7 linked regions of the Homo sapiens genome follow. The protein of the gene in region 6 interacts with the protein of the main gene of each other region in a pairwise test. Each region holds a gene or a part of one and is shown on either strand. Other genes may lie near its edges.

Evidence for each region.
Region 1: the proteins of FAM161A (region 6) and CCDC136 interact in binary tests that used the Homo sapiens proteins (3 or more experiments, as listed by UniProt).
Region 2: the proteins of FAM161A (region 6) and AXIN2 interact in binary tests that used the Homo sapiens proteins (3 or more experiments, as listed by UniProt).
Region 3: the proteins of FAM161A (region 6) and ROPN1 interact in binary tests that used the Homo sapiens proteins (3 or more experiments, as listed by UniProt).
Region 4: the proteins of FAM161A (region 6) and KIAA1328 interact in binary tests that used the Homo sapiens proteins (3 or more experiments, as listed by UniProt).
Region 5: the proteins of FAM161A (region 6) and ZRANB1 interact in binary tests that used the Homo sapiens proteins (3 or more experiments, as listed by UniProt).
Region 7: the proteins of FAM161A (region 6) and ZNF276 interact in binary tests that used the Homo sapiens proteins (3 or more experiments, as listed by UniProt).

What each region holds. Positions count from the first base shown.
Region 1 is NC_000007.14:128,797,929-128,802,350, forward strand, and holds part of CCDC136 (coiled-coil domain-containing protein 136), read left to right. Parts: intron 1-3,257; coding exon 3,258-3,581; intron 3,582-4,422. UniProt on the Homo sapiens protein: May play a role in acrosome formation in spermatogenesis and in fertilization.
Region 2 is NC_000017.11:65,536,838-65,541,149, forward strand, and holds part of AXIN2 (axin-2), read right to left. Parts: intron 1,507-4,312; coding exon 1,366-1,506; intron 999-1,365; coding exon 487-998; intron 227-486; coding exon 32-226; intron 1-31. UniProt on the Homo sapiens protein: Inhibitor of the Wnt signaling pathway. Down-regulates beta-catenin. Probably facilitate the phosphorylation of beta-catenin and APC by GSK3B.
Region 3 is NC_000003.12:123,988,669-123,993,854, reverse strand, and holds the start of ROPN1 (ropporin-1A), read left to right. Parts: upstream 1-1,730; 5' UTR 1,731-1,933; intron 1,934-2,496; exon of another isoform or gene 2,497-2,674; intron 2,675-5,186. UniProt on the Homo sapiens protein: Important for male fertility. With ROPN1L, involved in fibrous sheath integrity and sperm motility, plays a role in PKA-dependent signaling processes required for spermatozoa capacitation.
Region 4 is NC_000018.10:36,831,667-36,836,088, reverse strand, and holds part of KIAA1328 (protein hinderin), read right to left. Parts: exon of another isoform or gene 2,701-4,422; intron 1,887-2,700; exon of another isoform or gene 1,816-1,886; coding exon of another isoform or gene 1,770-1,815; coding exon 1,734-1,769; intron 856-1,733; coding exon 713-855; intron 1-712. UniProt on the Homo sapiens protein: Competes with SMC1 for binding to SMC3. May affect the availability of SMC3 to engage in the formation of multimeric protein complexes.
Region 5 is NC_000010.11:124,965,472-124,969,893, reverse strand, and holds part of ZRANB1 (ubiquitin thioesterase ZRANB1), read right to left. Parts: intron 3,301-4,422; coding exon 3,113-3,300; intron 1-3,112. UniProt on the Homo sapiens protein: Ubiquitin thioesterase, which specifically hydrolyzes 'Lys-29'-linked and 'Lys-33'-linked diubiquitin. Also cleaves 'Lys-63'-linked chains, but with 40-fold less efficiency compared to 'Lys-29'-linked ones.
Region 6 is NC_000002.12:61,840,522-61,844,943, forward strand, and holds part of FAM161A (protein FAM161A), read right to left. Parts: intron 1,840-4,422; coding exon 1,601-1,839; intron 61-1,600; coding exon 1-60. UniProt on the Homo sapiens protein: Involved in ciliogenesis.
Region 7 is NC_000016.10:89,737,615-89,741,425, reverse strand, and holds the end of ZNF276 (zinc finger protein 276), read right to left. Parts: exon of another isoform or gene 3,706-3,811; coding exon of another isoform or gene 3,621-3,705; coding exon 3,521-3,620; exon of another isoform or gene 3,451-3,520; coding exon 3,180-3,450; 3' UTR 2,826-3,179; coding exon of another isoform or gene 2,718-2,825; 3' UTR 2,545-2,717; coding exon of another isoform or gene 2,452-2,544; 3' UTR 2,298-2,451; coding exon of another isoform or gene 2,137-2,297; 3' UTR 1,949-2,136; coding exon of another isoform or gene 1,873-1,948; 3' UTR 1,433-1,872; coding exon of another isoform or gene 1,327-1,432; 3' UTR 623-1,326; coding exon of another isoform or gene 560-622; 3' UTR 501-559; downstream 1-500. Other genes in the region: FANCA (Fanconi anemia group A protein), read left to right, coding at 560-622, 1,327-1,432, 1,873-1,948, 2,137-2,293, 2,452-2,544, 2,718-2,825. UniProt on the Homo sapiens protein: May be involved in transcriptional regulation.

The sequences.
Region 1 (4,422 bases), on a different chromosome or scaffold from region 6:
TTTTTTTGAGACGGAGTCTCGCTGTGTCGCCCAGGCTGGAGTGCAGTGGCGTGATCTCGGCTCACTGCAAGCTCCGCCTCCCGGGTTCACGCCATTCTCCTGCCTCAGCCTCCCGAGTAGCTGAGACTACAGGCGCCCGCCACCACACCCGGCTAATTTTTTGTATTTTTAGTAGAGGCGGGGTTTCACTGTGTTAGCCAGGATGGTCTCGATCTCCTGACCTCATGATCCGCCCGCCTCTGCCTCCCAAAGTGCTGGGATTAAAGGCGTGAGCCACCGCGCCCGGCCGAAAATAGGGTTCCAGAGCGATTCTCTCCTCAGTAGAGTTTTTTGTTTGTTTTGAGACGAAGTCTTGCTCTGTCACCCAGGCTGGAGTGCAGTGGCGAGATCTTGGCCCACTGCAACCTCCTCCTCCTGGGTTGAAGCAATTCTTCTGCCTCAGCTTCGCGAGTAGCTGGGACTACAAATGCCAGCCACCACACCCGGCTAATTTTTGTATATTTAGTAGAGATGGGGTTTCGCCATTTTGGCCAGGCTGGTCTCCAACCCCTGATCTCAAGTGATCCACCAGCCTCAGCCTCCCAAAGTGCTGGGATTAAAGGTGTGAGCCACCGTGTTTGGCCGACAATACCATTTTTTTAGGGCCAGAAGCACCTAAGAGAGAGTTGAACCCTAACATCAAAAGCATATTAGGGAGGTGGAGGTTGGTCTGTTTCTCCAGAACACCCACCCCAGACTCTAGGGCCTTTGTCCTAATGGCCAGCTTCCTCTTGTGTCTCCCTAGCTAGACAGACCTCACTGTGCTGCTCAGTAGTGGGGGTAGAGCGGACTTTTCTTCCAATAGGAAGTCAGAGAATCTAACAGGAGATTCTTGGCCTTGGCACGCAGTTAAGGATCAGTTAATAGTTGTTGAATAGATCAAGGAGACGTAACAGCTAGGATCATTCTAGAACTGGAAAGATTGGCAAAAGACATGCCCATAGTTCCACATGTGAGCTCAGGGGAGCAGGGTAGATCTTCCCCTGAGATGCCCTCACCACTCAGCATCTATCTATGAAGCGTGTCCAAATTTGTCTTCTTTGAAAGTCTAGATTCTATTCTAATTTTTAAAAAATATCCAAACAGGGCCAGGTGTGGTGGCTCATGCCTGTAATCCCAGCACTTTGGGAAGCCAAGATGGATCGCCTGAGCCCAGGAGTTTGAGACCAGCCTGGGCAACAGAAAGAGACCCCCATCTCTACATTAAAAAAAAAAAAAAAAAAAAAAAAAGCAGGGCATGGTAGCCCATGCCTGTAGTCTCAGATATTAGGGATGCTGAGGAGGGAGGATTGCTTGAGCCCAGGAAGTCAAGGCTGCAGTGAGCCATGATCATGCCACTCCACTCCAGCCTGGGCAACAGAACAAGACTGTCTCAAAAACAGAAAGGAAAACCCCCCAAACCCCAAATGTTTAGTTCTGTACACATAAGAGATACTTAGCAAAAGTTTGTTGAATAGATGAACTGCTGCCTTACTTATGCATGAATACATCAAATATCTATTGAGCTTCGTTTTCAGGCACAATACTAGATCCTGGAGCTGTAATGGTGAGCAAACCAGATATGCTCTCTGCCTCGATAAAGCTTATAACCAAGTGAAGGGGAGACTTAAGTACACACACACATATAGCAAAGTACAAGGTTTTATGAGACCATTTAATAGAGGACTTCTCTTATTTTTTTTTGAGGAAGTGGAGGTACAGGCTAGAAAAGTTGACATCTGAGTGGTGAGTAGAATGAGCAGAAGTTGGGGGAAGGGGATGGGAGAATGTGCCTTGCAAAGGATTTATGGGAAAATCCTGACCCTCCCAACCCAATCCTCATTAATTCTCTAATCCTGGCCCTCAAATCCTAAATTCACTGTTGGTGTCAGTGCCTTTTACTCTCTCCACTTTTTCGTTCTGATCCCAGATGGGTACATGTGTCTAGAAACTCTGAGATGCTCCATAGATACAGAGAACTCTTAACTCATTATTTTGTAAATTAAAAAATAGAAAATATAGGCTTGTTCTGAAAATCCAAACAGCACAGATAGATATGATATGTAAAGTAAAAACCTTACCACATGTTATCCCATACCTCAGAAACAACTACTCATTATGGTTTGGGCATAGATCTTTCCAGGCCTTTTTCTATATGTTTGTCCATTTGTGTGTTATATACTATACATAAAATATTTTTTGCAAAAATTAGATCATAGCATATATTTTACAGCTCTTTTTCTTCAGTTAATATGGAAACTTCTTTGTTTTCACCATAGATCTGATACTTTCTTTTAAATGGCTGCATGATATTCTATTTAACTATCATCAGTTTATTTATTTATTATTGTTATTATTTTTCGAGACCGAGTCTCACTCTGTTGCCCAGGCTGGAGTGCAGTGGTGCGATCTTGGCTCACAGCAACCTCTGCCTCCCGGGCTCAAATGATTCTCCTGTCTCAGCCTCCCAAGTAGCTGGGATTACAGGGGCGTGCCACCACACCTGGCTTTCTTTTTTTTTTTTTTTTAGCGAAGACTGGGTTTCACCATGTTGGCCAGGCTGGTCTTGAACTCCTGACCTCAAGTGATCCACCTGCCTTGGCCTCCCAAAGTGCTGGGATTATAGGCGTGAGCCACTGCTCCCAGCCTATCATCAATTTAAACAATCCCTTATCGACTGACACTTAGATTATTATCCCGTGTTTGGTTATTATGCAGTGAACTTATATTTGAATTTGAGTTGTGAACTCTAAATGCACATTGTTTTAGGTCCAGTACTTACCACAGGTAGGTCATGGGAACTCTGAGGCTCTGTAATTTCTGAGCTCTCAGGATGAATAGGTGAAAATAGTCTGTATACATTTTTTGAGTCAGGGGATTTTTAGAAAGATTCAGGGCATCAAGAAAATACTATAAATGAAGTTAGGTCTTTAACTGTCAGGTGATTCCTTAGAAGCATGAAATACTTTTTGTTTACAGTAGACTAAGTGATTGTTTTGGTGCCAGGCCTCAAAATCTACTTTTCTATTGGACCTTACTACATAGAGTCACTCTCTTTTCCCTTCTTAGGTACTCCTTTTATTCCGTCCGGCATGATGCTACACTTCTCTGATGGGGTAGAGACAAGGTTTTCAGGACTTTGCAGACAAGAAATAAGTCTCCCTTTAATTTTGTGCCTCTAGAACATGGTAGGTTAGTTCACCTGCCCTCTTGATCATCTCAACCTTTGGACTTTGCAGGTGAGCTGCGTTCTCTACGGGAGGAGATTTCCCTGTTAGAGCATGAGAAAGAAAGCGAACTTAAGGAAATAGAACAGGAATTGCATTTGGCCCAGGCTGAGATCCAGAGTCTGCGGCAAGCAGCAGAGGATTCCGCAACTGAACATGAGAGTGACATAGCATCCCTGCAGGAGGATCTCTGCCGGATGCAGAATGAACTTGAAGACATGGAACGCATTCGGGGAGATTATGAGATGGAGATCGCCTCCCTCCGTGCAGAAATGGAAATGAAGAGCTCTGAACCATCCGGTAGTTTAGGTCTCTCAGATTACTCTGGGTTACAAGGTATGAGAGCCATCAAGTGGGTCAGTAAAGTCAAGCAGAGGAAAGGAGATAATATATAGGAAAATGGTAGAAGGTGGTGTTAGATCATGAATTGGGAATCTCTAGAAAAAACCTCCAGGTTGAATTCAAGACTGTAGGGGTCCAGGCGTGATGGCTCATGCCTGTAATCCCAGAACTTTGGGAGGCCAAGATGGGAGGATCACTCGAGCCCAGGCATTCATGAGCAGCCTGGGCAATGAAGTGAGACCCTATCTCTTTCTAAAAGAAAAATTTAAATAAAAATTTTAAAAAGACAGTAAAGGGGAAAAACCTACCCAGATGTTACATAACCAGTCCATGGTGGTGTAAGAAATAGCACCATGGAGAGGTACCCTGGGAATTCTTCAGAGAGTCATTGGGTCTTTGTTGATTTGACTATGGGAAAACCCTTCCTGGGAAAATTTCCAGCTCTAGGATGGGCAAAGAGGGACCTGTCACCTTGGGAAACTCTTCCTGCTGCCCTGGCATCATGGTGCTTTGCCTGGAATGCTTTATAGGGGGCCTCTGGCCCTGCTTCCAGGTGCAGGGATGCTAATTCTTAGGTTCCATTAGCTCTCCTCAAAATAGAAGCTTTGGGGGGCAACAAATCGGAACAAAAGACAGCTAGAGAAGAAAAGTTATTCTGAGTGATACATGAGGTACCCAAAAGCCTAGAGCCCTGCTTTCAGACAGTGAGTCTCCCAGCTAGTTGCTAGGATTCATGACATCAGAGAGTTTGCCTTTATTCTGAGGCTAGATTTATAATCTGAGTATAATGGAGGTCCTATATTTGGCCAGGTCAAGCAGAGGCAATCAACAAGGA
Region 2 (4,312 bases), on a different chromosome or scaffold from region 6:
CGCGGCCGCGGCGGCGGCAAGCGGTGTTTACCTATGGGGCTTGGGCTTGCTCTGCCGCTCACTCTCCAGCATCCACTGCCAGACATCCTGCGACCTGTCTCCTTCCTCCCGGGGAAGCTGCAGGGCCCCAGCTCCGCCGGGGGCCCCTCCTTCCCTGGCGGGCAGGGCCAGGCCCGGCTCCGTGCCTTTCCCATTGCGTTTGGGCAAGGTACTGCCTCTGCTGCCGCTGTGGGGAACCAAGAACCACACCCAACCCAGAGACCCGGTTAAATCTCCGGGACTCCTAGAATCAGACAATTCAGCAAGTCGGGGGGCTGGTGACACGAAAGACCCATGCACCTGCTCCCCGCACCCTCACCCGGCCGTGCACTCTGCCGCCCTCTTAGAAACTAAATGCCTGTAATGCGGCTCCCACCTCACACCTGCCCATGGACCTGGCTGGGAGACAAGCCCCACACGGGACACTGCGGTCCGCCCGGCACTTACCCAAACTGCTCGCTGGGCATGGTTTCCGGAGCCTTGGAGTGGCTTTTGCATTTCGAGTAGCAGTAATACTCGCTGCCCCCAGGGCAGAAGCAGTGCACCCGCTGCGTGGCCTCCGCCTCGATCTCCTCCTTGGTCTTGGGGACGGCATGGTGGTGGATGTAGTGGTGGTGGACATGCTTCGTCGTCTGCTTGGTCACAAAGCCTTTGCCCCCGAGGAGGGGGCAGGCGCCCGGCGAGGCGGCCGCGGGAGGCAGCTTGCCACCGGGCGGGAGCAGGGAGTGGTACTGCGAATGGTGGTGGTGGTGGTGGTCCGGGGAGCGGGAGCGGGGGCTATAGCGGCCTACGCCTGGAGACTGGCAGCCAGGGGTCTTGAGGACCCTGGACAGGTGATCGTCCAGTATCGTCTGCGGGTCTTCCTCGTAGCTGCCGGAGGGCAGTAGGGAGAGGGGGTGCTGCGTGGGCGCCCCCTCCCGCGAATTGAGTGTGAGCTCGGAGCCCTCTCTCTCTTCATCCTGAAAGGGAAGACGTCAGAAGGAGAAGTGACCCAGGAAGCAGAAGGGCCAGAGGCCCTGGGGTTGCAACATTCGGCTCCCTACGCAGGAGCACGCACACCCGTGTGCACGCCCACAGCCACGCCCATGCGCACACGCACAGGCCCGCCTACACAAGCACATATCCACACGCATATGCACACCCACACGCAACCCATGCACATGCGCACACAGCCCACGCCCAGGCACACACCCACACGCAGCCCACGCGCATGCGCATGCAACCCACGCACATGCGCACACCCTAACGCACCCCATGCACATGCGCATACACATACGAGCGCTCACGCCGTGGACGGAAGCAGGAAGAAGGCCTAGGCCGCATTACCTCTCGGATCTGCTGCAGGCGCTCCTCCAGGCTGTGGCGGCTCTCCAACTCCAGCTTCAGCTTTTCCAGCCTCGAGATCAGCTCAGCTGCAAAGGTGGCGGGTTCCACGGGGGTCATCTCCTTGGGCAGGCGGTGGGTTCTCTACAGGACGTGGAAAGGAAAGGGAGGAGGCACGTTCAGCAGGCTAGGTGGGCGGTGGCTTGGCCGGAGCTTCCCGCACCAGGCGCTGTGCACCGCAAACCCATGTTCGGGTGTAGAGTGGATGGCAAGGCGGCCTGGGCTGCTCGGGACTTTTATGCGCTAGCGCCATGGCCTCATGGAGAGCCATGGTCCCCACCAGCGTTTGCCTTGGGCAGGAGCAGTTGGTCGCACTCCGAGAGGCCCTGCTTGTTCTTTCTGTAGTACAACCAGCCCATCAGTAGTTACTTTGAAGTAGAAAATCTTCAAAGACTGTTGTCAACCATCAAAAAAAAAAAAAAAAAAAAAAAAAAAAAAAAAAAAAAGGCAGCCCTCTGAGGTGGGGAGGGGAGAGACCAACTCAAGGAATAGAAAGTAGAATCTAAACAGAAAGAGAGTTGAAAATTTAAAAAAATAAGATTGGAAAGGAGGTGGGAGGAAAGAAAGTGGGGGAAAAGGGAGTCAAACGGCCTGGATCAGAGAAGAAGTGGTAATTTATTTCCTGGCCGCACACTGCGCACCTTTGAGGTGGTGGTGTCTCAACACTGTCCTCGATCTCCCTCGTTTTTCTCCTTCCCTCCTCCCTCTCTCTTTGTACAGAAAATGAAGAAAGCTGCTGCAGGCTAGTAGCAGAACACTGCTGAGCTTGGCTGCCTGAAGCTGATCTATCAAGGGAAAAGGGAACATCTCCAAATCAAGTGCAGAATATAAAAAGGCACCGAGTACGCCTGCCAAAAGCAGCAAACAGAGAGAACCCCTGCTGCCCAGCTTTCTGTCCTTTTCCTGTCATCTCGCTCCCCCCACCCAACCCCCCACCTCTCCAGTTGTTCTACCTCCTTCTTCCTAATCTCCCTCTTGCTTAGCTCCTTTCTTTGGGCTGGGGTGGGGGTAGCAGAAAGCTAACTTGCAAAGGCTAGCATCTCCCCCAGCTGAAAAGATGGGCCTTGCCACGGCAACCACTTAGCTGCAGAAACTGGGGAAGAAGAGAAAGGCTCCTGTGTAGGTGGCCATTCTCACACAGGCTGGCTCCTTGCAGCCCCTGATCAAAGCGCTGCCTGATGGAGAAAGTCGATTTGCACACCCCAGGACAAAATCATCTAATTTACAAGCTTGGGCGATAGAACTTTTCTTTGTTAACTCACATATCCCCCAGTCAAAAAAACAATGATAGTATGTCATCAATACTTGTTATCTGTAGAGGGAGGGGATGCTAGAGGTCCTCAGAAAAGCAATTTTAATATGCTAATTTTAAAACAAGGTAAGTCTGCCCTTGTCTGTGTGAGGAGCTTTCAGAGAAGAGCTATAGTTTGTGCACTAATGCAACATGGGTTTAGCAATTCAATGTGTTAATTTTTTAAACACAACATAACCAGACCAATTAGATTCTCTGAAGCTGGCAGGAAGGATTCATAAACACCTGCTGTGAGCTGGGTGCTTTCTTCCCCTCCCCTCCTTGCAACCTGGATCTGAGGCTGTTGTAAACAGCACAGCCCTAAAATGGGAATGTAGATGGGGAAGTTCTCTTGAGTACAGCCATGTGCTGGCTGCTTTAGCAAGCATGGAAATAAAAGCAGAGGTCCCAGAAGAGCCCTTCATCCACCATCTCAGTCACAGGAAGAAGCTGCTCAGGAGATCCTCACTTCTAAACACTTCGTTCATTCCGCATTTGATAGGCACAGACTCACCAGCAGGTACCAAGCCAAGTTCTGGAGTTGGAAAGGAACAGCTACCCTCCAGGGCTTCAGGAGCCAGGAGGAGAAATGGTCAATGAATACATAAATAAATGACTAAAATCACTGACTAAAATGACTTGGAGTCCTGTGGTTGACACAAGAAGTAGAATGTCCCAGTGAAGAGAGCAGGAGGATGTCCCAAGGGGGGGCAGAGGTTCCTTATTCATTCACTCAAATGTTTATTGAGCACCTATTATGTGTCAGGTACTGTTCTAGTCTCTGTGCATACAGAGGTTAACAGAATAGATAAAACTCCCTCCCATCAGAGGGCTTCCATTCTAGTGGAAATACAGTGAGCTCACCAAGCTGTAGAGAAGCATGGATCATCTAGCATTTCTTAGTTTCTGGGAAATAAGTGCTTCAGTTTCTTTCTGATAGGGAATTTTTTTTTTGAATTCAGAAAATGCAAAGGTTCAAAAATAGGTCATCAAACCTCTCACATAGTTGGGATGCTTGTCCCCTCCAAATCTCATGTTGAAATATGATCCCCAATGGTGGAAGTGCACCTAGTGGGAGGTGTTTCGTGCCCTCCCTGCAGTAATGAGCAAGTTTTCCCTGTAGTTCATATGAGATCTGGTTGTTTGAAAGAACATGGCATTGCCCACCACCCCCCCAACCTCAGCTTGCTGTTTCTCCCGCTATGTTACAAACTGGCTCTCCTTCCCCTTGCGCATCATGATTGAAAGCTCCCTGAGACCTTCACCAGAAGCAGATGTTGGCGCCATGGTTCTTGAATAGCCTGCAGATCCATGAACCAAATAAACCTCTTTTCTTTGTTTTTTCTTTTGAGAAGGAGTCTCGCTCTGTCGCCCAGGCTGGAGTGCACTGGCGTTAGCTCACTACAACCTCCACCTCCCAGGTTCAAGTGATTCCCCTGCCTCAGGCTCCCAAGTAGCTGGGACTACAGGCGCACGTCACCACGCTAGGCTAATTTTTGTATTTTTAGTAGTGGTGGGGCTTCACCATGTTGGCCAGGCTGGGTCTCGAACTCCTGACCTCAGGTGATCTGCCCACCTCCGACTCCCAAAGTGCTGAGA
Region 3 (5,186 bases), on a different chromosome or scaffold from region 6:
CACCCTGTTTGTCAAGTGCCTATACCAACACCTGGCAGCCCCTCCACAGAGGCCTCAGAAAGGCAGGTGATAGCTAGTGACTAGGTTTCTTTCATCCCCAGATCTTGCCCTGTGGGCAGTGGCCATCCCCAGACCATCCAGGATTCTCCAGGTGTGCAAGGACCTACAGGATTTTGACAAATGCCAGCAGAGTGGCCTCTTTACAAATGGATGACAACAGGCTGTGAAAAGCTTTCTGCATGCGTAACCCAAAAATCTAGTTCCCCCACTTGTTCACTGATGCTTAAAATTGCTTTAGGGAGAGACAAAGGCTTTCATCTCACAAACAGAGAAAGCTTTGAAGGGCCTGGGTGAACTAATCTATTTAGACTAATACACACTGTTGTATAAATGGAATGAAGGATTAGATGATGCAATGGGCCCCTTTAAAATAGGTGTGAAGTGACACGGGATGTAGCAGAGAAAGATGGGGCTTTTCTTGCCTCCTTGGGTGCTTAAAACGAACAGTCTTGAGACCAGGTGCGGTAGCTCAAACCTGTAATCCCAATACTTTGGGAGACCAAGGCAGGTGGATCACTTGAGCCCAGGGATTCAAGACCAGCCTGGGCAACATGGCAAAACCCCGTTTATAAAAATATAAAAATTAGCCTGTCATCGTGGCAAGCACCTGCAGTCTCAGCTACTTGGGAGGCTGAGGTGGGAGGATTGCTTAGACCTAGGAGATTGAGGCTGCAGTGAGTCATGATTACCCCATTGCACTCCAGCCTGGGCAACAGAGCAAGACCCTGTCTCAAAACACACACACACACACACACACACACACACACACACACACACACACACACACAGTCTTGAAACCGGAAGACCTGGAGTAAAGTTGGGCCCTGAGCCCTACTGCCAGCTGTTCGATCACAGGCAAAATTACTCGAAGCCTTGAGCCTGTTTTTTATTTCCAAAGCGAAGGTAATACCTACCTTCAGAGTTTACTGTGAAACTTTGATGTCATCATGTTTGTAAAAGTGCCCTGGCACAGTGACCACATTCTACCCTATAAATATTTTCTATCTTTCCCTGTTGTCCCCAGGCATCTCAGGCTCTGTTCCTATCCACTCCATGCCCCTTTCTTAGCATTATAAGGTCAAGAGTGAGGAATCTGGGACCACGCAACCCAGATTCAGATCCTGACTCTGTCACTTGCTGACTGTCATCTTGGACAAGTTTAACCTCTCTGTGCTCAGTTCCCTCATCTGTAAAAATGGGGATAACAATAGTACTTGCCTCATGGGGTGACAGTAAGGATGAAATGAGTTCATGTGTGTAATGCACTTAGAACAATTCCTGGCACCAAAAACTCATTGTAAGAAGTGTTGTTACTATGATTCCTGAGGAATTCTCACCTGTCCACTTTCCACAAGCCGAAAGATCAAGCTCCACTTCTGCCCTCTCACCTACAAAAGCGCACCGTCAATGGCTACACATTCCGCCCCACCCCCAACGCCCCCAGCCCGGGTTTCCTAACGTCCCCAGCCCAGTCCTTAACCCTCCAGGCCGTCTGGTCCTTCCACCACCAGCAAAGCCCAAAACAGCTTTCAGCGTCCCCTAGCAGCGCCCTAGCGGGACCCTGGGAACCCGCCGCTGCAGGAGAGGCGGGGCGGCTCTGTGACGTCGCGCCCGGCGCTACCCCTGGTGACCTGGCAGCGGAGCCCGCGCAGGGTTTGCCAGGCGAAGGCGGAGCGCTAACGTCTAACGCTAACGGCGGTCGTGCCCCGCCGCTGCTGTCACCCCCGGCCGCTGCTGCCCTCCCCGCCGAGGTTCTACTGCTCTCCTTCTTAAGAAGGGTGGGAGGCACTCGGTCTCTCCCCACACCTCTCGCCTGAGGCCAGGCGCCAGGTGTCGCCTGAAGCCAGACAGCCGGTTTGGGAGCGAGCCTGAGGTAGCCACCCCGAGGGGAAGTGGAGGGAGGGCAGGGCTCTGAGCGCCCCGAGGGCTGCGCTGGTCTGAGGGAGGAGCCCTGCCGGACGCCCCCTGGATTCTGAGCCTCTCCTTGTTCACAGGGCAAGGGGAAGGCAAGGGGATCTTCAAGAGAATGTGACTGTGGGGGATTATGGCTTTCTGGCCAATTTGTGTGCGTATTTTGTACCCAGAATACTATTATACGGTTTCTTACCCGGAGGACAGTGGTTGGGAGGCTCAAGAGTTTGGAATCAGAGCCCTCCACCGAGGAGCCACACCTCTGCTTTTTCATCAGCGACAGGGATATAAAAATACCTCTGGGTGAATTGTCATGTGGATGTCATGGGCATACCTAGCACTTCATAGACTCCTATCACACATTATTTTATACCTAGCACTTCATAGACTCCTGTCAGGCATTATTTTATACCTGGCACTTCATAGACTCCTATCACATATTATTTTATACCTAGCACTTCATAGACTCCTATCACGCATTATTTTATACCTAGCACTTCATAGACTCCTATCACGTGTTCATTTTATAGCTAGCACTTCATAGACTGCTATCACGCATTCATTTTTACTAGTACCTATTGAACACTAAGTTCCAGGCACTGGGCTAGGCACTGGGATGGTGTGGTGAGCAAAAACTGACCAGTCCTGCCGTGGAGTTTGCTGGGGGAGACACATGTTACTCAAAGAATCACACTAAGGATAGGTAAGTGATGCTCTGGAAGGGTATGTACAATGGAACTGACAGGGTAATCAGGGAAGGTTAAGCAGACCTCCAAAGGAAGAATCAACCTGTTAAGAGGAGGAGAATGTATTCCAAACAAGAGTAACCACATCCCAAACCCACCATCTCCAATTCCAAACCCAAACAGGGATGTGCAGTTGCCTGTGCTTGGTTCCAAGTGATACTCATAGAAACCCTCTGAGATTCTGCCCTGGAGCCTTTCATTCATGTTACTGGAGACTTTCATTTATGAAACGGAAGCCCTGTTTAGCCCATACCAATAAAACCAAGTGAGAGATCCCTGAAACAAGGCTATAGTCTATTTTAAGACCTACATTCTTCAGCACTTGGCAGGTATATGTTGGCCTCCATTTTACATTGAGAGGCATGTAGGTTTCACTTAGGAGGAAATGCATTGAATTGAAAGAGTTGGGGTTATGGATAAGCTCTGGAATGTATAATTGAAGAAGACCTACACTATCAAGAGATTTAAAAATGGAAAATAACTTTACAAAATGTTAGAATTGAGGAATGTTAAGATAGAATGGACCTTTCTCCCACTTCTTTGATGTGAACAAATGACCCTTATTGCCCAAAGGCAGGAAAGCTGGGCTTTGGTGCCTCTTCAACTCAGAGAGTCTATGATTTCAACTCTGTGATTCAAAAGTGCATGGAACTCCTGAAAGTAAATGGGAACATGGGGGGATAATTTGACCTGACCCTCCTTTAGTGTTTTCTATTTCTACAAGGGTACCACCACTGTGCACCCAGTCATCCAAGCTTGAAAACTGATAGTCACTCTAGACTTTTCTGTCCTTCACCTCTTCCTCCTTCTCCACCTTCTCTTCTTCCTCCTCCTCCACCTCCTCTTTTCTTCCTCCTCCTCCTCCTTCAGTAGTTACCAAATCCTGTAGATCCTATCTCCTAAATACTTGTCTCTTATATCACTCCCTATTGCAACTACTTTTCAAGGCAGTGAAGCTCCTGGGAGTTGTCAAAAGTGCTGCCATATTCTCCTAACCTGGCTCCCTGCCTGAAGCTTCACCATCCTCTCTTCAGCTCATCCACACAGCTGTCAGTCAACGTGTTTCAGAGTCCAACAAAGAGAAATAAATCATATAGTAATTTTTTGAGCATATAATTTAACAAGAGAAGTTCAATATAAAGAATTGTTAATGATGGGATTGGAGTAATGAAGGATTGGCTAATATGTCAGGAGAGATCTAAAATATACAGGAATCACAGATATAAGGGGCAACCACTACCCCTGAGATAGATCACCCAAGGAAGAAACCTTTCCCAGAGCTTGGTGCATAGGGGATGGCCACAGCTGACTGGAGAGCAGAGAAATTGCTGAGGTGCCAGGCAGGCAAAATTTACTCTCTGAAACACCAGAGAAGCCATTCACTAAAAGGTAACTCACTGACAGCACTCTGCTATAGAGCTTCCCAAGAGAGGTGCCAGGGGACACTGCTAGCCATGGAGCACTGATAGCCACTGTGTACTCCAGCAGTTGGGCACTCAAAAGATCACACACTGCATGAAACAGATGCTAGAAAAGCTGTGTGCTACAGGATCCCAGCATAGGAGAAACTACAAGTTCCTGGAGCCTAGCAAGAAGAGCATACCTAAATTCCTAAGAGAAACCTCTTCCTCCTCCAGTCCTTCCAGTGCCCTGTCCTAACAAAGCATATCCTTATGACAGCTGACAAGGGAAAAAATGTTAAAGGACCTAGTTCAATTTTTGTGGAGGAGGCAATACAAGGTGAATTTGGAGCTGAGAGGCAAATATTGATAACCGGACCTAAAGCTAACACTGATTGTGTGACTCTTGTGCTTAAATTTTCTAGTGGTTCCCCATTGCCTTCAACAAAAAGTTCAAAAGCCCAAGCCTTGAGCTATATTTCCAGCCTTAGGCCCAACCACTCCTGCTTTGTCCACTTTAGAGCTCCATAATTACAGTTCCCTGAACTTGTCACGTTTCTGACAACCCCACATCTTTGCCTAAGTCCTTCTACCTACATGAAATTCTCTCCTTACTCTCATAAGTACACATATGCTTACTGAATACCTGCCCTGTACCCGGCTGTCTTCTGAGGGCTTGCAGTACAGCAATGAACAAACCAGGTTTTTCCAAGTCTCAGTTCAGATATCTCAGATATCACCACTCTTTGAAAAGTATTTTCTGACCTCCTTCTAATACCTGCAGATGTTAGATGCCTCATCCAAGAGTTTTTCTTCTGTTTTTCTTCTGTTCTTCTATATCTAGTGCAGGCTTCTTGACACTTATTATACCTTCTTTGAGTCACTGATTTTCCTGTCACTCTCTTCCACTGGACTGTGAGCTCCATGAAGCAGAGTGTGTGACTTATTTATTCATGTATCCCAGTATTCAGCACAATTCCAATAAAACACATAAATTTTGTCAGATTAATGATTTCCTAAGGATCACATAATTAGTCATAAATAGACCCAGGGCCAAAATCCTGGACTC
Region 4 (4,422 bases), on a different chromosome or scaffold from region 6:
TTTTAGCTTGTGGGCATGCAGTCTCTGTAGCAACCCTGCTATTGTAACACAAAAGCAACCATAGACAATTATGTAAAACAATGAGCACAGCTGTATTCCAAAAAACCTTTATTTATAAAACAGGCAGAAGGATTTGGTCCACAGGTTATAGATTCCAGAACATTCATATACAAGTTTTGTGTAGACATCCTAGTGAGTGTGAAGTGGTATTGAACAACTCTGGTTGCAGAGGGAAAATATAACAAAAATTAAAGTAAAATAAACTGGTCAGATAGGACATGTGCCAAAGGAATGCACCGATACTATTACTATGCCTAGTCATTGATTTGTCCCTCATCTTTACGAGGGTTCATCTATCAAATAAATTCACAAGAATAAAAATCAAAAAGGATGCCTAATTAAAAAGCAATTCTCATCAGTTTGATTTACCAATGCCACACAGATCAGAATGTAGTTCTTTTGAGACATATCAAGATAATACATTATCATGGCTAATGCTTACAGCAAGTCAGATGTTTTGGAGCAAAACCCTTGAGTAATCCAGATAATTTAGGCTCAAACCTGGCATCATCAAAGGATCCTGGAATCCTCTGTATCTTTTAAGAATGTTTGTTGATCACCTAGTATACTTTCAAAGGTTCTTCTACCCTTTTTGGTCAGCACTCATAAAGACTGGAGAGCAAGGAAAAAAAAAGACGAAAAAAATACTAACCTGTTCATCTACTGAATCTCCTGTGCCTTTTAAGGACTCCATGGAGATTGAAGCATCAGTCACCCTGGAAGTCTTAAGTTTAACATCAGCTTTTGGACTCATCAGCTTGTGTCTTGATCTGACATTTCCTTCAGCAGAAATTCCTAAGGATTTCCATTAAACAAGATTTCAAAATTATACCTTATTATCTTAAACCCTCCCCCATCAACTCCTTCCTTGGAATCCTCTACTTTAAGGGACCTGATGGAGGAAACTCTCTTACTTTATAAACTTAATTTTAAAGCTCTTAATATATGAATCATAAAAAGAATATGTTTTAAAGAAATACACTAAAGATTGAATTGAAATTTGTTTTTATATTTATTTTTTTAAAGAGACAGGGTCTTCCTATGTCTATCCAGGCTGGACTTGAACTCCTGGGCTCAAGCAATCCTCCCACCTCAGCCTCTGGAGTAGCTGGAACTACAGGATCAAGCAACCACATCCAGCTTAACTGAAATATTTGTAAAGGGTACTGTAAATATTCATAAGTCACATTAAAACCAATAAATTACGATATGCCAAATATATGTTAACTTAGGGGAAATCAATGATATTTTTCACCCTATATAATGAGGGTGCCTTCAATAGTTGCTTTACTACCATCTAGTTACAACCATTAAACTTGAAGTGCCTCTTACATATACCCTGTATCAAGCAGTAGTCACACTTTTATTTGAAATATTAAATTTGGCTATCATTTGTAAAAGAAAAAATAAGAAAAGAATCTTTTGCCCCTTGCCACATGAAGTGTTCTACAAGTTCATTAAAAGCTGATTGGGCCAGCCAATCCCAAAGATAAGCCAGTATTTCAAACCTTAATAGGGTTATGACAAATATTCAAAAAAAACAAATTTTAGGTTTTGATGTACTGCTCTGCATTCAGTTATTTATACCCGCAACATTGTTCTAATAGCTTTATTTTCTTCTAACATTTAAGGACCAAAGTAAGCTTCCCAAATTTTAACATAGAAAATCATACCTGGAACGTATACTACTGATTGTTCTTCATCAGAAACTACGCAGGAGAACATGAAGGAAAATACAATAATATTATCCGGCATCCAAATGCTGCTTCTGTTCTGTATACCTCTTATAATTCATAATTTCTTTTGACCTGGGAATTTGTAACTAACTTTTAAAAACAAAGTTAGAAAGCAAAGTAATTGAATTAAAAACAAAGTTAGAAAGCAAAGTAATTGAATTAAATGTAGCAAAATTAATATTCTCTAAAAGTTCACCTTTATATATTCACAACTACACATCTTATAAAAATCTTGGAAGGTCTTGTTCCATGAAACTTTTATCCACTCTCAAGTGGGTTACCCTGCAATATATACTCTACTATTAGGTTCCTTTCCTTTTGTAAACAAAAACTTAAGTGCTCCAGTTTGGTCATTACTGAGGAACTGACAATTCTGAAGAGTAAATAATTTCAAGATAGACTTTAGCTTTGAAGAACAAACACTGAGGGCAAGTCAATCATGCAAACACAAAGACATTATTTATTCTTCTACAGTGTATTCATAAAATATCCCAAGAAGCCCTACTATTTAAAAAGTAGAAGAAATTTAAGACAAAAAGAACTATTTTGAATTTCAAAAGGAGAAATTTAGAAAGGCTATGATTATAACACACTGTTTTCAACTGTCACCTTGATCCAACTCAACTTTTCCTCTCCCAGGATTATTGCAATAAGCTCCTAACTGCTCTCTGTCACTTCTGTGCATGTTCCCTTAACAGCCTATTTTTTCACACAGTGGTTAGAATGATCATTTTAATAGTTATGTCATTTCTAATTTAGATTAAAAGCCAAAGTATTAACAACAGCCTGCAATGCTCAAGATCTGATCCCTGTAACTTGTTACATCTCTGATCTCACTTGCTACTATTCCTCTCACTCATTCCTGGCTTTCTTATAATTGTTAACAAGCTATGCAAGCTCCTACCTTATAGCTTCTGCAGGTATGATTTCTTCTACCCAGGAAGCTCTTTCCTCAAATATCTTCATGGCTCACTTTAGGACTTATGTCATATGTCATGTCATGTCACCTTCTGATTGAAGCTTTCACTTCCTAACCATATAGGTACTTGAAATTGCAAAACTCTCTCTTCCCACAACCTACCTACCTCCCGCTACTATCTGCCTCTTTCCTGCTTTATTTTTTCTCCACAGCACCAATATCATTGAACATAGGCCAGGTGCAGTGGCTCACGTCTGTAATCCCAGCACTTTGGGAGGCCGAGGTGGGCATATCACGAGGTCAGAAAATCGAGATCATCCTGGCTAACACGGTGAAACCCTGTCTCTACTAAAAATGTAAAAAAAAAAAATTAGCCGGGCATGGTGGCGGGTGCCTGTAGTCCCAGCTACTCCAGAGGTTGAGGCAGGAGAATGGTGTGAACCCAGAAGGCGGAGCTTGCAGTGAGCTGAGATGGCACCACTGCACTCCAGCCTGGGCAACAGACCGAGACTCTGACTCAAAAAAAAAAAAAAAAATCATTGAACATATATTTTCCTTATTCATGACCTGATCTCATCTCACTAAAATGTAGGCACCAAGAGGGTAATGATTTTTGTTTTATTTTGTTCAGTGTTGTACCCTCAAACATAAAAGAATGTCTGGCTCCATCTATGAAAGAATAAAATTGGTATTGATTTAATTTTATGAGGTGTTGTCCAACAACCTTATATGTTATATTTCTGTGATTCTAAATATGCAAACAAAACTTTTTTTTTTTTTTTTTTTTGAGACAGAGTCTCGCTCTGCCACCCAGGCTGGAGTGCAGCGGTTTGATCTCAGCTCACTGCAACCTCCACCTCCTAGGTCAAGCAATTCTCTGCCTCAGCCTCCCGAGTAGCTGGGATTACAGGTGCCCGCCGCCACACCTGGCTAATTTTTTTTGTAGTTTTAGTAGAGACGGCCGTTTCATCATGTTGGCCAGACTGGTTTTGAACTCCTGACCTTGTGATCCACCTGCTTTGGCCTCCCAAAATGCTGGGATTACAGGTGTGAGCCACCGCAAGCGGCCAACAAAACCTTTTACTTTCAGCTACATCCATGACAAATTTATTTTCAAATATATAAAACTCTAAACAAACTACTTCAATATTTTTAATAACAATATTTGAAATTGCCTCTATCCTTTCTAATAATTTGTAATGTATTTTCATCTCATTATATTAAGAACCCAAATATTTACCTCCTTCAAATCTAGAATTTCCCAACAAATGTATATTTTATGGGGAAGTCAAACAGACACATTATATACCAAATGTATAGTGGGCCTACTAGTGGGTCATTTCTAGATTATTTATAATACCTAAAACAATGTACATGCTATATAAATAGTAGTTAAATTGTACAGTTTAATTTGTATTTTTTTGTGTGCTATTTCTTTTTTTTCTCAAATATTTTCCATCCACATTTGAATGAATCAGCAGATACAGAGGGCTAACTGTAATTAGAAACCCAGGCAGAAGTGGTAGAGAGGAAGATGCACCTCTATCCCAGACCTCCAGGATTTGAAGGAAATAAGTTCAGTACTGCCCATTCTACTCTAATCTGCTGAGTTTTGCCAGCAATACATGTATATGTAATTATTATCAACCACAGAGACTTTCTGGGCTAATATATTATTTTTACCACAACATACAGTCTTTGTTTCCA
Region 5 (4,422 bases), on a different chromosome or scaffold from region 6:
GCCCCTGAAGCCTGCCACTCACCTTCTCACCTCCTTCAACCTTATGGTTCTCAACCATCTCCGTAGGCTGGGAGTTCTTAACTTAGGGTCCATGATCTTGGGAATGGTCCATGTACTTTAATGGGAATTTGGTTTTAATTCAAGTTAAATCAATTATCCCCAACTTTTTACCTATATTAAAATGTATTTTCTTATATATCACAAATTTAGTTTAGTATTTTGGTAGCTATTACTTCAATACAACTGATTTCCTTTGTAATCTCATTTACTTCTTATTTTTTGTATTTAAAAACAGTATTCTGGGAAGGAGTCCATAAGTTTCATGAAACTACCAACATGGTCCATGACACAGAAACCGATGAAAATTCCTGCCCCACATACATATCCCCAACTCTAATGTTCTCCTGTTCTCATTCCAAAAGAACTTGGCTGAGCATTCTCTGCAACACACCCCCTTAGTCTAGACTTAGTCCAGACTCCCCCACTTCCAGTCTCCCTACTGGCCCCTTTAATTCTGTCCTTTGGAGTATTTACTCCATGGAGACTGAATCCATGACCAATTTTGCTCTTTGCCTGGAACAAATCCCCTCCACCTCTCCCACGCTGTTCCAGGGTTGTTCTACACGTCCCACGGAATACAGCAAAAGTAATGGTATGTTGCTTCCTAAATCAATTTATAAAAGACACTGCAGGTTTCAAAGACACTGGATCACTCTCTTGTACTCTGTGCCTCTCTTGGATCACTTGTTGGGGGTAAAACCAGCTGCTGTATCATGAGCATCCCTGTAGACAGGCCTGCATGGCACAGTATTGAAGCCTCCTGCCAAAAGCCACCTGAGTGGGCTTAGGAACAGATACTCTAGCCCCAGTTGAGTCTTTTGACAACTACAGCCCTGGACCACTTGACTGCAACCTCATGACATCATGAGCCAAAACTATTCAGCTAAGCAGCTCCTGGATTCTAACCCTCACAAACTCTGTGAGATAACATACATTTGTTGTCTTAGCTGCTAAGTTTCCAGACAATCTGTGATACTGCAATAAATATACTGATGTTCGATCATCATCCCACTGTTACTCCTCAGACTGTCTCAGGAGCTCAATGACTCACAATGGCCCCTCTAAAACCTTGTAATAATCTTCTACCTACCTTTAGGGGAGCCCCTTAAGACTTTCACCCTAGTTCACAACCACCTTCTTTATCCTGGCTCCTGTCACCACCAGCAACTACAACTCCACATTGACAGCCCTTCCAATATACAATAGACAACACAACTAGGCACCACAACACAAATGCAGCCAGGCCTTCGACACTAGAAAAACTCCAATTCTTCTATCTCATGTTCCAAAACCTGGATCCCTCTATCTGAAAAGTTCCCTTCTCCCTTATACTCAATAAGCCTGCCCTTTTGTTTTCATCATGGCCTTCAGTCTCTCAAGCCCCCCACCCCGGCTTCACTGGAATCTTACCAAACTGGACACAGGGGTTAGCTACTACAATCATGTTTCCATCTAACCTTCAAATTTTTTAATCCCCATACAGTGCCCTGCAGTGGTTCCCAAATATTGGCAAATTTGAATAAACAAATATGCAAAAGTATATATGAAAGATGTATACTGACAAAATTTGAATCCACAATTAATATGACTCTCTGCACTTTTACTCTATTTCTCTTACCATTAAAAAATGTTACCTTGGCCAGACACGGTGGCTCATGCCTATAATCCCAGCACTTTGGGGGGCCGAGGCGGGCAGATCACTTGAGGTCAGGAGTTCAAGACCAGCCTAGCCAACATGGTGAAACCCCACCTTTCTAAAAATACAAAATTAGCCAGGCATGGTGGCATGTGCCTACAATCCCAGTTACTTAGGAGGCTGACAAAGGAGACTCGCTTGAACCCAGGAGGCAGAGGCTGCAGTAAGCCAAGATCGTGCCACTATACTACAGCCTGGGCAACAGAGTGAGACTCCAGCTTAAAAAAAAAAAGAAAGAAAAAAAAAACCTGGATAATGTAGTCACATTCTGAATAATTCATACACAATCTCTATCATTGGTAGCATGTACCTAGTTATGTAAGCCAGAAACTGAAGAATCAACTTACATCCACACTGTATCTTCCCATATCCAATCAGTCTACTTCTTCAGACTGAGGGCCTGTCTCAGTCTCTCCAACCCTCTAACCCTCTTCCCATTTCTAAGGCTACCCTTCTGGGTACCCTTCTATGGCTACCCTTCTGCCCTTCTGGCAGAAGTTCTTGCCAGCACCTCTGCAACTCCCTCCTAACCAGGCTCACCCCTCTCCAGTGTGCAGCAGCCAAAACACAATCTGCTCTGCTCACTCCCCTGCGCCCATACCTAACACCATCCAGTGCCTAGGGATAATCTTCAAATTCCTTGACACAGAAGATCCTTCGTAATCCAGCCTCTGCTTATCTTTCAGACTTCCCTTCTCTCCATTCCCAATCACCATCTCAGCCATGCTTAGTTACCTGCAAGTCCCTAGATTCACCACAAATTCCACCATCTCTGCCCCCTGTAAAAATGCTTTCCTCAACTTCCCTTCTCTCCCTTATCCACTTCATGTGGCTAACTCCTAACTCTTTCTCTTCAAATTGCAGCAAAAACATTACCTGCTATAAGAAAGACGACAAGACACCTCAAAACTCTTCAAGTACTGGCATAACACTTGGCATTTACATCTACCAGGGCACAGGCTGCACAGAATTACCTGTTCATTTCTCTACTTTGCTGGAGATTTAATGAAGAAAGAGCCAGTATCTTTACAATTGTATCCCTTCTCAGCCTAGTGCATGGCACACAGTAAATGCACAATAAATATCTGTTAATTGAATGACTAAAGAATGACAGATACATCCCAGGTTTGTATGAACCAAACATGATGAGTCAAACATTGTTGTGACTATTCAAATATTTGAAAGCATATACCCTTAAAAATTAAGTCTCTTAAGTTTAATGTTATTTTTAAAAGGGGGTAAAAGAATTCAAAACATTTTAAAGCTGCTTAGAGAAACATTATAAAATCAAAAATGAAAACTAAAGAACAGGTTTCTTTAATATAAAAGAACATTTAACCAAAACGCCAAACTTACCTCTGTAAGCAATATTGCTAGCATATCCTGCCTCTGAAAACGTATAGCCAAGTGTACAAGAGTATAGCCAACATCAAAGGCAGAAGGACGATTCAGCAAGCGTACTTCATCTGCGGTGAGCTGACGTGCAATGTCTCCTCCTGATGACTTGTATGCTTCTATGGCAGCTAAATCACCTTCTACAACCCCTAAAACAAGCATCAAGATAGAAAAGCATTTAATTCTCATTTTCTTCAAAAAACACAAACCGTAGCAATCACTCCAAAATCTTTTAAGTGTTTCTCTGTGCTTCCTGGATCCTGATGCATCATTTAAATGTCCTATAAGAGTAAGGAAAATAAGTTTTTTCCTTTCCCTTTAAAAATTTTCCTTCCAGAACTAGAACTGCCTAGACATTTACCTTACCATCAGTGCAGGCTCCAGGCTCTGGTGAGATTTAGAGGAACTATTAGGCTGCATGAATTGGATCGAAGATCAATAATCTAGTATGAGAAACCAGACGTAACAAGAGACACTGAGCCCCTGGTTCCGGTCCTGCGTTCATCCTGACTCTGCAGAAACCAAGGAGACAGGGATGTGCTTCCAGCTGGTGTTGAGCTCCTCCTGCCCTTTACACTGCATTCTTAAAGCAGAATCAAAACAAATGCTGAGCTTTCCATACTGCTCTTTAGCTTTGAAACAACTTAGAGCAACTGAAACCATCTTCAGTGTAAGTAAACGTTGGCAACATTTTGATTTCAGATTCTCATAGCCAAGTCTTCCTTATATCCATTAAGAATTATTAATAACGTAAAAATTGGACCAGATGATTTCATATAAAATACGCTAAAATAAAACATTACAATCCAGTTAGAGTAGGGGGGAAACAGAAATATCACTTCTGCCAAATCTATAAAGAACATTCCATTACCACTGAACCATTTTATTAATCTTAACACAAATTAATGTTAGGTAAACACAGTAATACTGTCTACTAAGCAGTCTGGTAAAGTATGGGTATCAGCCTGGGCAAAGAAACAGTAGATTAGCTTCCAATTTACCACAAAAAGTGTTTAAAACAATTTTTAAAAAATTATTTATGGGACCAAATACTTTTAAGTGTTTCCTAAATTACATCAAGACAAATGTGTTTGCTGGACAGAACACTAATACTAGGTAAAAAAATATTCTTAGTGTACTTTTAAAAGAGTATTTTAATTGCCATCTTGAACTAGGAATTAGATCAGACATATTCCTTAGAATATAACAGATTGATAAAATGCAACAATTTTCTACCATTAGTAAAGATAACAAGGCTTCAAAATAATTCC
Region 6 (4,422 bases):
GGCTCTGAAAATGATGTCATTAATGAGACAGGGTGATAGGAGTTCTTTTCTGATACAGATCTAAATGAGAAGAATAACTATGTTATACTTTCAGTTGTATGTGACCAAATATAAAAATTAAGAGTTACATATTTTCTTTTTTTTTCTGAGACAGAGTCTCACTCTGTTGCCCAGGTTGGAGTGCAGTGGTGTGATATCGGCTCACTGCAACCTCCACCTCCCAGGTTCAAGCAATTCTCCTGTCTCAGCCTCCCGAGTAGCTGGGACTACAGGCTTGTGCCACCATGCTCAGCTAATTTTCTGCATTTTTAGTAGAGACAGGGTTTTACCAAGTTACCCAGGATGGTCTCAATCTCCTGACCTCGTGATCTGCCTGCCTCCGCCTCCCAAAGTGCTGAGATTACAGGCATGAGCCACTGTGCCCAGCCAAGAGTTACATATTTTCTAAGATCAGGGTATAATCAGAAGCGAGGAGCTGGACAGGGCTTGTAAGAATCATCACTTTTATTTGGAATAGAGCTGGGCAATGCCCATAAATTATCCACTTTGACTCCTTCATTTTACAGGGAAGGAACCTGAGATGGCAGAGGGTCCTTGTGTCTAACCTCTATTAAATTCTCCCCACTTTCCAGAGTCACTGTCCTGAAGCATAGATCTGATCATGTCATTCCCCTGCTTGAAACTTTTTGATAATTCCTCACTGCTACGAAGTCAAGCCTAGATTACAAGCCCTTCGAGACTGGCGCCTATCTTTTCAGTCTTACCCCTCACCACTGGCTACCCCAGTCTCCATTCTGCATTCATATCCAGTCCTGTGAAGTTCCTCACACACGATATGATTTCTCATGCCATCTTGCCTTTGCATACATGGTTTCTGCTGCCTAGAAGGCCAATACTTATTCCTCCTCCAAGACTGAACTCAGATGTGACACTTTAGTGGAAAATTCTGGCCTGCATCCCTCTGAAAGCTTGGCATGACCAACTGCTTCTTCCTCTGTAACACTCTGTTACATCATGCTGTAATGCAATTTTTGGTTCTCAGCTAGTCTCTAAGCTCCTTGAGGGCATCTTGTTTTTGACTCCTCAGCGCCCAGGCATAGTCTGGCACAAAGGAGACATGCAAGCATCGCTGACTGACTAGATGTGTAAGTCTCAGAGCAGGTGAGTTCACAGCAGAAATGGGTCTTGAAATTGCAGACTATTTTGAAAACATAAATCAGATTCATGTCTCCTAGTCCTGAACTCTTTGTACTAGATCTTTAATGAGCTCATGTTAATCCACATATTATAAAGAGCTTTTAAAATTAAACTTTTATATTTACCAGTTAAAATGGCACAGACTAAGTATTTTGATACATGCCCTCAGTTCTATGGGTGGGTCAGAAAGAAAAGACCAAATGGCCACCAAATGACCCTCAAGCAAACGGTCATCCAGTAAGCTGATAAGCCATTAAACATTTTGAATAAAATCCTACCTCTGTATATCGTTGGGAGTACAAAGGGCTATTTAAGAGAAAATATTATGAAGTAACTTTGTTCTGTCCTTTTAAGGATACATTTTATTTTATACTCCACAAATAACATTGAGTTACAAGCTTACCTGGAAGAGTCACTAAGAGAGTCTTCTCTGATGACCACTGGCTGAACTTCCTTTAAATGTAATTTATCCTGGTACATTTTCTCTAATTTTGCCATAGTTTCTATGTGGGCAGCCTTCAACTCTTCTACTTTCTTGAAATACTCCTCATTAGAGTGGTGAATATCAGGAAAGTTCACAAAGTCCTCATAGCTTATCGGTGCATGTTCATCCACCCCAGAAAAGCTGGTGTTCAAATCAGCCTGGTGGGGAGAAAACACTTGATATATAGTGACTGGAGCTGAAAGACAAATTAAGCTGACACTGATCCAAAATGCTGCTTCTTAAAGAGTCCACCTAGTTAGGTTATACATTAATTATGGGCTATGCATATAGAATGAGTTATAGGTTATTTGTGGGCTATGTACATTTTCCCCAGTGATATTTTAAGAACGAGAGGGAGCAAGACCAAACTGTCAGAAAATAAATGTTATTTAATCCATTTGATAAAGGATGGTTCAATTCCCAGATCAACCAACAAAAGGTATAATAGGATAGAACCCAACAACCCTTTACAAAGTATTTCTATAAGGAGCCTCCTGAGTTGTAAGTTTTAACTGAGATGAAGAGGAACACGGTTCTACCTGCTGTAAACCAGGCAACCACAGCCCAATGCTCTCCCTCCAGCTGCGCTCCTGCAGTGTGGCTCCAAGGACTGCCAGTGGAGAGAAGGCAGGGAAATAGAGGAAATGGGGGCAGGGACAAAGTTCTCAGTGGCTTATCAAGGAGCCAGGGAGAAGCCCTCCTCACAGTGGGGCAAGACTTTGGGAGGGAGTAAGAGGACATGGGAGGGGGTAGGAGGGACTTTCAGGGTAGCTGCTTCTGTGGGCACAAAAGCAGTAGCTCCCATGGGTGACCGGGACTTTAGGATGACAACAAAGCAAAGAAGAAAAAATGCTGTAATTATTCAACATACAGATCATGTTTAGAAGGGTCTGACTGGCCTTTCTCCCTCACTCCCTTTACATACCTTTCAGTTTTTTTGTTTGTTTGTTTGTTTTTACGAGACGGAGTCTCACTCTGTCACTCAGGCTGGAGTGCAGTGGCACCATCTCAGCTCACTGCAACCTCTGCCTTCTCCTGCCTCAGACTCCCAAGTAGCTGGGATTACAGGCGCACACCACCACACCCAGCTAATTTTTGTATTTTAGTAGAGACGGGGTTTCACCATGTTGGCCAGACTGGTCTTGAATTCTTGACCTCAGGTGATCTACTCGCCTCGGCCTCTCAAAGTGCTGGGATTATGGGCATGAGCCACCGTGCCCTACCCTTTCAGTTCTTTTAATTGAAGCAACTAAAGAGATAAAACCCCATTTTCTCCATAAATATAAAATTTTTATTATGTTCTCAGTTGAGAAACAGTTGAAATTATTTATGATACTATGCATAAAAGGCTGCCAACCACAGTTTTAAATTTAGCCTACTGTCTGGAACAGATGCAAAATGAAAAAATTTGCTACAGAAAATTATAGATCCAATCTGATAAGACTCTAGAAAATAATCTGTTTAGCTTCTCTCAAAATAAAAATTCAGAAGAGTCAATTATAAATAGTAGTTATAGATGTGGTATTTTTGTTTCCCACTGGAGGCTTCTCAGAAGATATGGTATTTTTTTTAATACGCTAAAATCAGCATACAAGAGGACAATGTTGTACTACTTGGGGTAACTTAAAGAAAACAACTTTTAAAAAATCAGTCTTCAGAGGCCGGGCACGGTGGCTCACGCCTATAATCCCAGCACTTTGGGAGGCCGAGGCAGGTGGATCACGAGGTCAGGAGATTGAGACAATCCTGGCTAACATGGCAAAACCCCATCTCTACTAAAAATACAAAAAATTAGCCAGGTGTGCTGGCGGGCACCTATATTCCCAGCTACTCGGGAGGCTGCAGCAGGAGAATGGCGTGAACCTGGGAGGCAGAGCTTGCAGTGAGCTGAGATCAGGCCACTGCACTCCAGCCTAGGCGACAGAGCGAGACTCTGTCTCCAAAAAAAAAAGCAGTCTTCAATAGAACTTACGTGCAGAAATTTGCTACCAACAACTCTATGAATCAGAGAACTGCTTTAACTATGTCAAACAATTCAATTAAGAGAATTCTCTGATATCTTCTGCTGTTTCTTTATGTGCTTCTCACCATAAACTTCTTATCTGCAGGATGACTACTTTGTGAATTTCCTCATTCATTAAATATTTGGGGGCCATCCTGCAATCAGCTAGCTGCTAAAATGTACGTCAGATTTTTTTTAAACTCTACCTTTGAGGCCAGGCACAGTGGCTCACACCTATAATCCCAGCACTTTGGGAGGCCGAGGCAGCCAGATCACTTGAGGTCAGGAGTTTGAGACCAGCCTGGCCAACATGGTGAAACCCCCTCTCTACTAAAAATACAAAAATTAGCCAGGCATGGTGGCAGGTACCTGTAGTCCCAGCTACTCGGGAGGCTGAAGCGGAAGAGTCACCTGAACCCAGGAGGTGGAGGTTGCAGTCAGCCAAGATCGTACCACAGCACTCCAGCTTGGGTGACAAAGCAAGACTCTGTCTCACTTAAAACAAACAAACAAACAAAAACTCTACCTTTGAGAAGTTTCCAGCTAGCTTAGGAAAGGACATGTATATAAATAATAGACAGCTGACTTAGAATGAGACAGAACACCTGATTCCTGCCCACAAGCTACTTCCAGCTAAGCGGAGAGACAGATGTATGTCACAATGTCAGACACTAAGAGACAGAGGCACAATTCACAGAGGTGAGCCAGACTGGAGACACATGGTTGGACGAGGACAAAG
Region 7 (3,811 bases), on a different chromosome or scaffold from region 6:
AGCTGGATCGACAGCAGCGCCCAGGGTTTTGGTGATTATAACCACCCTGCAGGGGTTCTTCTGAGTACGTCTTCAGGTTTCTTGTGTAGTTTTGTTAGAAGGGATTTTAGTGGCTCCAGGGCCTTAGGACCCTAGTGTGCAGCGAGGAGTGTCCACAGAGACCCTGCCCAGTCAGGCCCTACTTTAGGCTGGAGCCTGTGGGCTTATCTTCAAGGATTTTACAAACACTTCTGACAGGAGGCCTTGCAGGGAGATGATGCTGAGTTGGGACTGCGCACAGCCAAGGAGACCGCAGCAGTCTTCTCTTTCTGGCTCTTGTCACTTTTTCAAACTGTTTCTAGCTTTGTTTAAAGGCAAGTGTGAAATGACCCAGCCAGTAGTAATTAATTCTCAATTAAGCTGTCTCTCTAGAAGTGATTGGAAAGTTTTCTAAGATCCACTTAAAGGATTTATGGCCTAGATGTAAAAAATTTCAATTAAAGAGGAATGTGTCAGCCTTATTTAGAATGACAGCACAGGTAATTTTAATGTAATAATAAGTGCACGTTTTTATTTACAGCTATTGGTTTTCCTTTTCTTCTTCTCCTTGATGGGCCTGCTGTCGTCACATCTGACCTCAAATGTAAGTCAGACCTTACCAGCCAAGGTGTCCTCTCCCACTGTGGGCCAGGCAGGGGCACCAGGCAGCCAGCTTCCAAGTCAGGGTTTCCAGACTAGCTCAGGAGCTCCTTGTGTTTGCGGAAGTGTGAGTGAGAACTCCCAGGCCGTGGGTTTTTTTTTTTTTTTTTTGAGATGGGGGTCTCACTCTGTCACCCAGGCTGGAGTGCAGTGGTGTGATCTCAGCTCACTGCAACCTCAGCCTCCTGGGTTCAAGCAATTCTCCTGCATCAGCCTCCCGAGTAGCTGGGATTACAGGCGTGAGTCTGTCACACCCGGCTAATTTTTGTATTTTTAGTAGAGACGGGGTTTCACCATATTGCCAGGCTGGTCTTGAACTGGCCTCAGTGATCCGCCGACCTCGGCCTCCCAAAGTGTTGGGATTACAGGCATGAGCCACTGCATCCGGCCTGTGGGCCTTTCTTTTAATGTCTTATTTGAGGACGTGGTGCAGCAGCCTTGGTGTGGGTGCTCGAAGTCCCTGGCCTCCTACCTGAGCCTCTTCTGTCCAGAGGCCCAGTATTACCTTCTATAGGTAAAACTGTCACCAGTTTTAAGACTTACAATAAGCAAAGAGGAAATGCCCTCTTCTGTGCTGAGGGCTGTACCCTCCTACCCATGGGAGCACCAGGTCGGCCATTCTCAGGGTTGGTCTCCTGCGGTTTACAGAGCACCACAGACCTGCCAAAGGCTTTCCACGTTTGTGCAGCAATCCTCGAGTGTTTAGAGAAGAGGAAGATATCCTGGCTGGCACTCTTTCAGTTGACAGAGAGTGGTAAGAAACACGCTGCTGAGGCACAAATGCGGAGGGCCGCTCTTTTCAGAGGCATCTTGCAAATGGTTAAGAACGAGCCCTCCTTGAGGTTCCTTGCTAAGTAAGTTTATAAGCTCCATTTTAGTTGGGACAGATTAAGCACAAACTTGTTTAAAGCAATAAGATAATTTACTGGCTCACTGGTCAACCCCAGGACCAATGGGCCTATCATGGGGACTGCCTCTCTCTGCACCACACCCACCCTCCTGCAAGAGGTCGACCCCCCCATCCTCTCCCAGCTGCTGACAGGTACCTGGGTATCCTCAGCTCAGGCTGTTCGCCCCACACTATCCCCACAGCCAGGCCTCCCAGGGTACACGTCCCGACCCCCAGGGGTGTCCCCAGCACTGATAATAGGCAGAGATGTCCAGAGTTGCCTGAGCCACTTCTTGGTGTTGCAGACCTCAGGCTGGGGCGGCTCCTCCTCCGTGTGGCCCCGGATCAGCACACCAGGCTGCTGCCTTTCGCTTTTTACAGGTACCTCCACCCACAGGGCTGGTCAGGGCTGGGCAGTGTTTCCCAGACCCCCATCTCAGCACCTCTGGGTCCCGCCAGATGGGAAGGGTTGTCTGTGCCTCTGCTCCACAGATGAGCAGTATCCCTTGGCATCACCTGCTACCTTTCCAGCAGTCTGTAGCCATTTGTCACTATGTCTTTACCTCTAGTCTTCTCTCCTACTTCCATGAAGACGCGGCCATCAGGGAAGAGGCCTTCCTGCATGTTGCTGTGGACATGTACTTGAAGCTGGTCCAGCTCTTCGTGGCTGGGGATACAAGCACAGTTTCACCTCCAGCTGGCAGGAGCCTGGAGCTCAAGGGTCAGGCAGGTGCAAGGGCCAGTCCCACCTCCAGGGGAGCTCCCCCCAGCCGGAGGCTCCTTCTGCCAAAGAATGTTCCGGCACAGCATGCAGACTATGGGGGACACACCAGCCCTGTTTCTGTATGTCTTCTAACCTGTGAGTTTGCCTGTTTTCTCTCTAGGGCAACCCCGTGGAACTGATAACAAAAGCTCGTCTTTTTCTGCTGCAGTTAATACCTCGGTGCCCGAAAAAGAGCTTCTCACACGTGGCAGAGGTAACGTCAAGATGCCCACCTTGGGCCATGTGGGGGACATGAGAATTGACAGCTGCCTGGGCCATGTGCCTGCCTGGCTGGCAATACAACTCGACTATTTCTGCCAGAGCCCCTCCCCTGTGGTCTGAGGCCTAGTGGGCGGCATGGGCTGAGGACCTGCTCCTCTCTCACAGCTGCTGGCTGATCGTGGGGACTGCGACCCAGAGGTGAGCGCCGCCCTCCAGAGCAGACAGCAGGCTGCCCCTGACGCTGACCTGTCCCAGGAGCCTCATCTCTTCTGACGGGACCTGCCACTGCACACCAGCCCAGCTCCCGTGTAAATAATTTATTACAAGCATAACATGGAGCTCTTGTTGCACTAAAAAGTGGATTACAAATCTCCTCGACTGCTTTAGTGGGGAAAGGAATCAATTATTTATGAACTGTCCGGCCCCGAGTCACTCAGCGTTTGCGGGAAAATAAACCACTGGTCCCAGAGCAGAGGAAGGCTACTTGAGCCGGACACCAAGCCCGCCTCCAGCACCAAGGGCGGGCAGCACCCTCCGACCCTCCCATGCGGGTGCACACGAAGGGTGAGGCTGACACAGCCACTGCGGAGTCCAGGCTGCTAGAGGTGCTCATCCTCACTGCCGTCCTCAGGTGGGTTCGGGCTTCACCGCCTGGCCCTCTGTGGTCACAGAGGGGCTCGGTGGCCCAGGTGGTGGTTCCGCCTCCAGGGGCAGGGCCTTGTCCTGGGTCTGTGTCAGCGGGTGCACCATGGACATGTGTACATTGAGGTTGTGGGCCTTCTCAAACCGCCGGCCACACTGGTCACAGGCAAAGTCCAGCTCAGTCTCAGCCTTGTGTTTGGTCATGTGGTACTTGAGGGATGCCCGCTGCCTGCACTGGAACCCACAGACCTCACACCTGGGGGACAGAGGCAGATAAGAAGGTGCGAGGGCCACAGCCCTGGGAGGGGGTCCTGACTCACACTTACTGCAAAGGCTTGGCTCCCGAATGTCGCATTTGGTGGACGAGAAGGTGCTTCCGCTGCTTGAAGGTTTGTCCACATTCGTCACAGATATAGTTCCGCACCTCTGAGAGGGGAGAGTCCAGTGAGTCCAGGCCCCTGATGCTCCAACCTCCCGGGGGGACGACGATGACAATGTGAAACCATCACAGCTGGGAAGACATTTCTGCACATGGTTCACCATGCAGTGGGCCCAAGCAAGGGGCCTATGAGGGCCTCGTTTATTAAGATCTTTAAACTGCTTTATACACTGTCACG